2 linked regions of the Homo sapiens genome follow. The protein of the gene in region 2 purifies or fractionates together with the protein of the main gene of each other region. This does not show direct contact. Each region holds a gene or a part of one and is shown on either strand. Other genes may lie near its edges. The genes, in order: EPB41L1 and CHD1.

The links.
Region 1: the proteins of CHD1 (region 2) and EPB41L1 purify together in Homo sapiens (co-immunoprecipitation; one large-scale study listed by IntAct). This does not show direct contact.

What each region holds. Positions count from the first base shown.
Region 1 is NC_000020.11:36,161,002-36,164,820, reverse strand, and holds part of EPB41L1 (band 4.1-like protein 1), read right to left. Parts: intron 1-3,819. UniProt on the Homo sapiens protein: May function to confer stability and plasticity to neuronal membrane via multiple interactions, including the spectrin-actin-based cytoskeleton, integral membrane channels and membrane-associated guanylate kinases.
Region 2 is NC_000005.10:98,897,826-98,901,644, forward strand, and holds part of CHD1 (chromodomain-helicase-DNA-binding protein 1), read right to left. Parts: intron 3,511-3,819; coding exon 3,361-3,510; intron 3,258-3,360; coding exon 2,986-3,257; intron 1,881-2,985; coding exon 1,655-1,880; intron 940-1,654; coding exon 839-939; intron 610-838; coding exon 431-609; intron 1-430. UniProt on the Homo sapiens protein: ATP-dependent chromatin-remodeling factor which functions as substrate recognition component of the transcription regulatory histone acetylation (HAT) complex SAGA. Regulates polymerase II transcription.

The sequences.
Region 1 (3,819 bases), on a different chromosome or scaffold from region 2:
CCAGCTACTCGGGAGCCTGAGACAGGAGAATTGCTTGAACCTCGGCAGCAGAGGTTGAAATGAGCCGAGATCATGCCACTGAACTCCAGCCTGGAGACAGAGCAAGACTCCATCTCAAAAAAATAAAATTAGATAAATAAATAAATAAAAAGTGAATATTCTGCTGGATACAGAGGAGACTATGTTATAGATGCTTATGACATGTACACAAGAAGCATGTCTTTGTATGCATAGGCACAGCAGTGAAACAACATGAGAACACACACAGCCACATGTATCATGCAAGCAAGGTTGTCTCTTCTAAACCCTGCACACCGATGACACCAAAGACTGTTGCCCAGGTGTTCTTGGAAATTCTGAACCAGGTGAGAGAGGAGATGGGGGGCAGGGGAGGGAGGAGACACCAAAACACCAAGAGACTCCCAGGCAGAAAAAAAGTCTCTTGTTTTGAATGATGTTTTTAATAGTCAGTTACTAAGACAACTCTTTCTGGGAAGTCAGAGGACATGTCTCTCCCATCTCCCTACAACCATGTCGCTTGGGTTGTTAGTCTCCATGTGCACCCCCAGATCCATGACCTGCTTGAAGAAGCAGGAGGCTGGCCCATTGGACTGTCCCTTGAGCTCCCTTGCCTCCTGGTTTCTGGTTCCATTTGGCCAATAGAAGACACTGGCAGGGGCCGGGCACAGTGGCTCACGCCTGCAATCCCAGCATTTTGGGAGGCCAAGGTGGGTGGATGACTTGGGGTCAGGAGTTTGAGACCAGCCTGGCCAACAAGGTGAAACCCTGTCTCTACTAAAAATATAAAAATTAACTGGGTGTGGTGGCAGGCGCCTGTAGTCCCAGCTACTAGGGAGGCTGAGGCAGACCTGGGAGGTGGAAGTTGCAGTGAGCCAAGATCATGCTACTGCACTCTAGCCTGGACGACAGAGACTCTGTCTTAAAAAAAAAATAATAAAGAAGAAGGCACTGGCAGGAATTCAGAAGGTGGAAGGAGAGAGATCCTGGGTGTATCTTCCCCAATTTCTCTCTCTGTGGTCCTGGTGGTGGCTGAGCCCCTCTGCGACAGCTCCCTGCCCACCTCTACCAGTCACGGAACTCAGGTAACACCACTCCCTCCTGCTCATTCAGGCCGAGAGCTAGTAATGCCTTCTGTCACTGTTAGTTTGTGGGTGCCTCACCATCCCATGTGGGTTCCCCTCACCCTGCTCACATCTTTATTAACATCTCCTCAGGTGAAGCATCTGAGTGGAATTCTGTTTCCTGTCAGAATCTGACTGATCCACCACCTGATGCTCACTTAGGATAAGGGGAGCCTGAGAAGAGGCAGAATAAGCTAAGAAGTCAAGGAAGGCAAGGGAACCGTCAGGAAGCCCCTTAACCTCTTTGTGCCTCAGTTTCTTCATCTGTAAAGTCATGATGATAAACTTACATACCTCACAGGCTTACTGTGAAAATGGAATCAGATCATGCCTGTAAAACACTAAACACATACCAGAATATTAGAAATATTTGCTCCAGAAATATTACTCTCCAATTAAGTCCAAAGACTAAAATGTTAACAATAGCCTTCCCTTGGAGAAGGAAATAGGGGCCTTTTTCTCCGTATTTTTCAATTTTCTACTATGAGCATGTATTACTTTCGGAGTCAGAAAAGAAAAAAGAAGAATTACAAGAAAAAAAAAAAAAAACAGAAAGAGTGCCTATTAGGGCTTATTCTTTCTCTCACTTGCTGGAGATGATGTGACTTCCTTCCCAAGGGGACTTCCCCAGTATGGAACACTCACTTCCCTGAGTGATAATGTCTACATGGACGTGAATGAAAGGATGGAGGGTACAGGCTGAGAGAGCTGCCTCTGAGACCTCAAGCCACTTTCACAGCCAGGCAAGAAGGATCAAAAAGGGAGCTGAGTCTGCAGTCATCCTGTCTGGTGCTTGGATTTGTACATGGCAGTGGGGAGACGGCAATTCGTCAGAGGTTTGCAGTACCCACGGACACCACTTTAGACCAAACAATGTGAAAAGGCCACCACCCATCAGCCTTGGCTTCTTGCCCAAAAGCTTCACGGGCCACTAGGGAGCCTCAGGCTGATGTGCAGTGGTGGGCTGGGGACCACGTGACAGCACAGAACTGCAGAGTAACAGCATTAAAACGGAGACATGCGTCCCACCTGGCCCATCCTGATGACGATGCAGAAGGCAGAGAGAGACCTCCCGTTAGCAGGGTATCCTCCGAGAGCTGGGCAACATGCTGGCTGTCTTTTGGGCTTTATCTTATTTGAGCTGCACAAGGGCCACACGGAGTAGGTGAGCTTATTTCCCAGGCGGCTTAGTGGCCAAGGCCACATGGCTAGTCAGTTTCAAGGAGAGCCAGGACTAGGACTCAAGTCTGCTGGCTCACAGTCCAGTGCTCTCCCCACTCAATGCTGCTACATCCCACGACCTCCAACTTGCTGTAAGCCATATAACCAAAGCTACTGTTGCTCTGGATGTAGAAATAATAACGGCAGTATCAATCCCTCCCACATGCAGGGCACTTTACAACTTAAAGGATCTTTTTATAATCATTTTGCTTGGACCTCACCAATTAGCCACTGTTGAGAGTGGGCAGGAAACAGCAGTTACAGACATGGGCTTATGAGCCAGAGCTGGAATCCTGATGCCACAGGCTTGGTGACCTTGGGCAGGTTACTTAACCTCTATTGAGAAGACTATCCCCTGCACCTCCAAGGTGTATAGTGAGAATTAAATGAGATAGGCAGGGTGTGGTGGCTCACGCCTGTAATCTCAGCACTTTGGAAGGCCAAGGAGGGAGGATTGCTTGAGCCCAGGAGTTTGAGAGCAGTCTGGGCAACAGAGCGAGACACTGTCTTTACCCTGTGCCCCCCCCAAATTAGCCGGGCATGGTGGGGTGCACCTGTAGTCCCAGCTACTCAGGAGGCTGAGGCAGGAGGATCACTAGAGCCTGGGAGTTTGAGGTCACAGTGAGCTGTGACTATGCCACTGCACTCCAGCCTGGGTGACAGAGTGACAGGCTGTCTTTAAAAAAACAAGAATAACGACTGGGCCTGTAATCCCAGCACTTTGGGAGGCTGAGGCAGGCAGATCACCTGAGGTCAGGAGTTCGAGACCAGCCTGGCCAACACAGTGATAACCTGTCTCTACTAAAAATACAAGAACTAGCCAGGCAGGTGGCACGTGCCTGTAATCCCAGCTACTTGGGAGGCCAAGGCAGGAGAATTGCTTGAACCGGGGAGGCGGAGGTTGCAGTGAGCTGAGATCCTGCCACTGCACTCCAGCCTGGGCAACACAGCAAGACTCCATCTCAAAAACAAAACAAAAAAACCCAAAAAACAAACAAACAAAAAAATAAGAAGAATAAAATAAAAAGAAAAAATAGAAAAACAGATAATGCACATGAAGCTTGCTCTAGCACAGTATTTGACATATAGAAGACACTCAGTGGCAGCAATGGCTCTGATCACCACCAGACAGATGGACAAACTGAGGTACAGAGAAGGTAGAAAGCTTGTCCAAGGACAGTCTGGGTGTGGGCAGCTGCACAGCCCAAGCAGCAGCTTAGAGCATCCTAAGAGAATTTGAAAATTTCCTAGGAGAGCTCCATACTGGGTGGGTGAAAGAAAGGGTCTTTCCCTGGGACATCACCACCTTTTGAGGGTGACAGAGAGATGGCCTCCTCCAAGACCAGTTCCCCCAGGCTCCAGTGAGGAGAGGAGGGAACAGGAGAAGGGAGAAGCAGCAGACCTTTGAGGGCAACTCTCACGGTCTCATGGTTTCTGACTCCTTCTCTCACTTGAT
Region 2 (3,819 bases):
TTTCCTATATCACTCTCCTTTTTCTCTACCTTCTAAGAAAATATCCACTATCTTTAAAATTGAGCATATCTCTAGTTTCCAAGGGTTTTTTTCTGTTTATTCTCCCAACCCTTCCTGACAATCACCATAACCAACTCATCTTTCTGACATAGTGATGCTCAACAAGATAAAAGACAACACTTAAGAAGATACATTGACGAAAACATCATTTACAATTTTTTTAAGAGAAAGTTTGAAATAAAAAATTATAAAACTAAAACTAAAAAACACACAGCAATTGCAGAAGTTCACTTCCTGTAAGACCTATTAACCAAGAAATATTCTCCCTTAGTCTATCTGAAATCAGGATCCAACTCTTGTATTTAGGCTTGTAAATATTTATAATGTATAAATATATTTTTAATAATTTAAAATGTTAGACAATACTCACTTTGCAATCTTTAAAAGGAGTGGTTTTTGATTGGTTCCTGCTAAAATACTCATCAATGCATGCTTGAAACTTTTTGGAAATGAGAGCTCCATCTTCCCAGCTGCACTCTGAGTATGGAAGGCCCTGCCATTTGCAGTAATAATCAGGATAACCAGCTGCTGACTTTTGATTGGAATGAGCTGTGAGAGAATCAGGCATTTACTTATTTATTTATTTTTTTTTACATTTAATCATCAGATACATAATTCTTAGTAAAGGCTACACAAGTAAAATTTAGCTATCTAGTTTACAATACTGTTTTAGTAAGAGCAAGCTACTGTGTTTGATATGTAAGTGGCAAACTTATGACTTTTTTCAGATTATTTCAAGCATAAAAAGAAAGTTTAACTAGAATCATTTATCACTAACCAATTATACGTTCCACTATTTGATACTGTTTATGTAGATCATCTGTAAGTTCTTGCTGGCAATTATAATATTCCACATCTTCTGGAGAGGCATTTTTCAACCTGAAAAATTATTAATCCAGGAATAGACTTAAAAATCTCCCATAAATAACCTTTCACTCCCCCATCCCCAACACTATTTGTAGCACAAAATCTCCCATTTTGCCACTGTGTGGGCCAAGTTTGAGTAATAAAGAAACTCAAACAGGAATAAAGCATCATTAATTTTTAACTAAAAATTTGTAATTTATAATGTATGAGACACACTCTATGTGACTGTTACCAAGGATAGGTTTAGATAGGTATACCTCTAGGAGTTTTACCTTGAGATGGAATAAAATCATCCCTCACTACCTGCAGGGGATTGGTTGAGGATCCTCTACAGATACCAGAATCTGAGGATGCTCAAGTCCCTTATATGAAATGACATGGTACCTAAAATATAACCCACACACATCCTCCCCCATACTTTAAATCATCTCTAGATGTTCTTATAATACCCAATTTTACATTTACAACGTAAATGCAGTGCAAATAGTTGTTACATGGTATTGTTTTTAATTTGTGTTATTGTTGTTTTTTTTCCCTCCGAATACTTTCAATCCATGGTTGGTTGAAACCAAGGATAGAGAAGCTGTGGACAAAGACAGCCAACTGTATTATAAAGTCTATAGCTATTTTAGGCTATCATTTAATGTTACTATGTATTCTTTATTAACATAAAGGTTTAGTAATCTTTGAACTATTAAAAGAAGTATATGATATACAGCATACTTACCATCTTTTTGTTTCCTGATCTTTTTTCTTATAATTATCCAATTTTTTCATTCCTCTAACATTCTGCTGCTTGAGGGTTTCTTCTGTCTCCCAAGTGTTGTGGATATGGGACCATCCTTTCCATTTAATTAAATACTGAATCTCTCCTGGTTCTTTGTTTTTTTCAAAGCCTGCATTTGGGTCACCATCTGCTTCAACTGCATAGATGGTTGTAGTAGCACCAGTAGCTGAAAACAAAAGCACAAGATCCTTCCATGTAATTAATTCTGTTGTAGGATTATATTTCAACTCAAAATTTCAATAATATGAGTACAAAAATATATACTCTTTTAAATAAAGTATTGGGGGTATAGAAACTTATGGGAAATTCTATTGCTCATAAATAAAACTGAGAATTTCAGAATTATCTAATATAATCCCCTCCTTTTTCGAATTAGAAAAAATAAAAAGACAGAGATCCACCTGAGATCCCACAGCATTATTCTATAATTATCCACAATATATGAAACGTGGTCAGCTGGAGGCCCAGCACGGTGGCTCACGCCTGTAATCCCAGCAATTTGGGAGGCCGAGGCGGGCGGATCACGAGGTCAGGAGATCAAGACCATCCTGGCTAACACGGTGAAACCCCATCTCTGCTAAAAATACAAAAAATCAGCCAGGTGTCCTGGCAGGCACCTGTAGTCCCAGCTACTCGGGAGGCTGAGGCAGGAGAATGGCGTGAACCTGGGAGGCGGAGCTTGCAGTGAGCTGAGACCGTGCCACTGCACTCCAGCCTGGACAACAGAACGAGATTCTGTCACAAAAAAAAAAAAAAAAGAAAAAAGAAATGTGGTCAGGTGGTTATTAAGAAGGTACTCAGGCTAAGCAAAGTAGCTTTTATAAAACATAAGTAAAACAACAACAACAAAAAATCCACCCTCTTAGCTTTCAACACTGTAGAAAAATCTTAAATACTTTACCTTTTTTTTTTTTTTTTGAGATGGAGTTTCGCTCTGTCACCCAGGCTGGAGTGCAGTCGTGCAATCTCAGCTCACTGCAACCTCAGCCTCGTGGGTTCAAGCAATTCCCTTGCCTCGGCTTCCCAAGTAGCTGGGACTACAGGTGCGCACCACCTCACCTAGCTAATCTTTTCTATTTTTAGTAGAGATGGGGTTTTGCCACGTTGGCCAGGCTGGTCTAGAACTCCTGACCTCAGGTCTAGAACTCCTGATCCATCGGCCTCGGCCCCCCAAAGTACTGGGATTACAGGGGCGACCCACTGTGCCCAGCCCTCTACTCCTGTAAATATTATTTAAATAACCAAACAATAAATGGTTTTTTAAAAACTACCTCCTTTTCTCCCAATCCGACAATCCATAAATCTTTCTATGGTTTCAAATTCCTCTTCCTCAGGTTGAGGAACATCCTCTCCACAGACTTCCAGTAGGTCATCAGAATCTGTTTTCATTTCTTCATCCTCCTTATAGCTAACATTAACAGTTGCTTGGCGACGAGAACTTCTTTTATCATTATCATAATCTTCTTCATCATCATCCTCCTCAGATGAATCAATCTGTCTCTTTTTTTGTCCAAGAATCTTCTTTCCATTTTTTGACTTAGATCTAGGAAAGTGCAAAGAGAAAAAAAAACAAGATTTGAGAAACTATATACAAAAAGAACAAATACTTTCCACAATCAATTTTCAGCACCAAACTGAGACCATACCTATTTTGAGGTTTTCTGCTTTTGACTTTGTTTTTTGGCTCATAATCAGATTCTGTTTCATCACAACTGCTTTTCTCTCTCTCTTCTTCAGATTCTGAATCTGAACCAGACTGAGATGGAGATCCTGACCCAGACATTTGCCAATCTTCACTGCAGACAAAATTTATAAAGTATTTTTATTTGTACTTATATGGCAAGTTTTATCCCTAATACAAAGATGATCAAATCAACCAAACTATATTCGCTATCAAAAATACTGTTGCTTTTACTCATGCTAAAAATGAAATATTTATAAAACAAAAACACTCTGGAAAATATTCTTCATAGACTTCTCTCACAACTCTAGTTTTGCTAATCACTTAGTTATACGTCAGTGAACAGCAAATAAATGATATTTTAATTTTCATTATAGATGAAAATCTCATAAAATTATTCTACTTGCCCTCTCAAAAAAGAGAT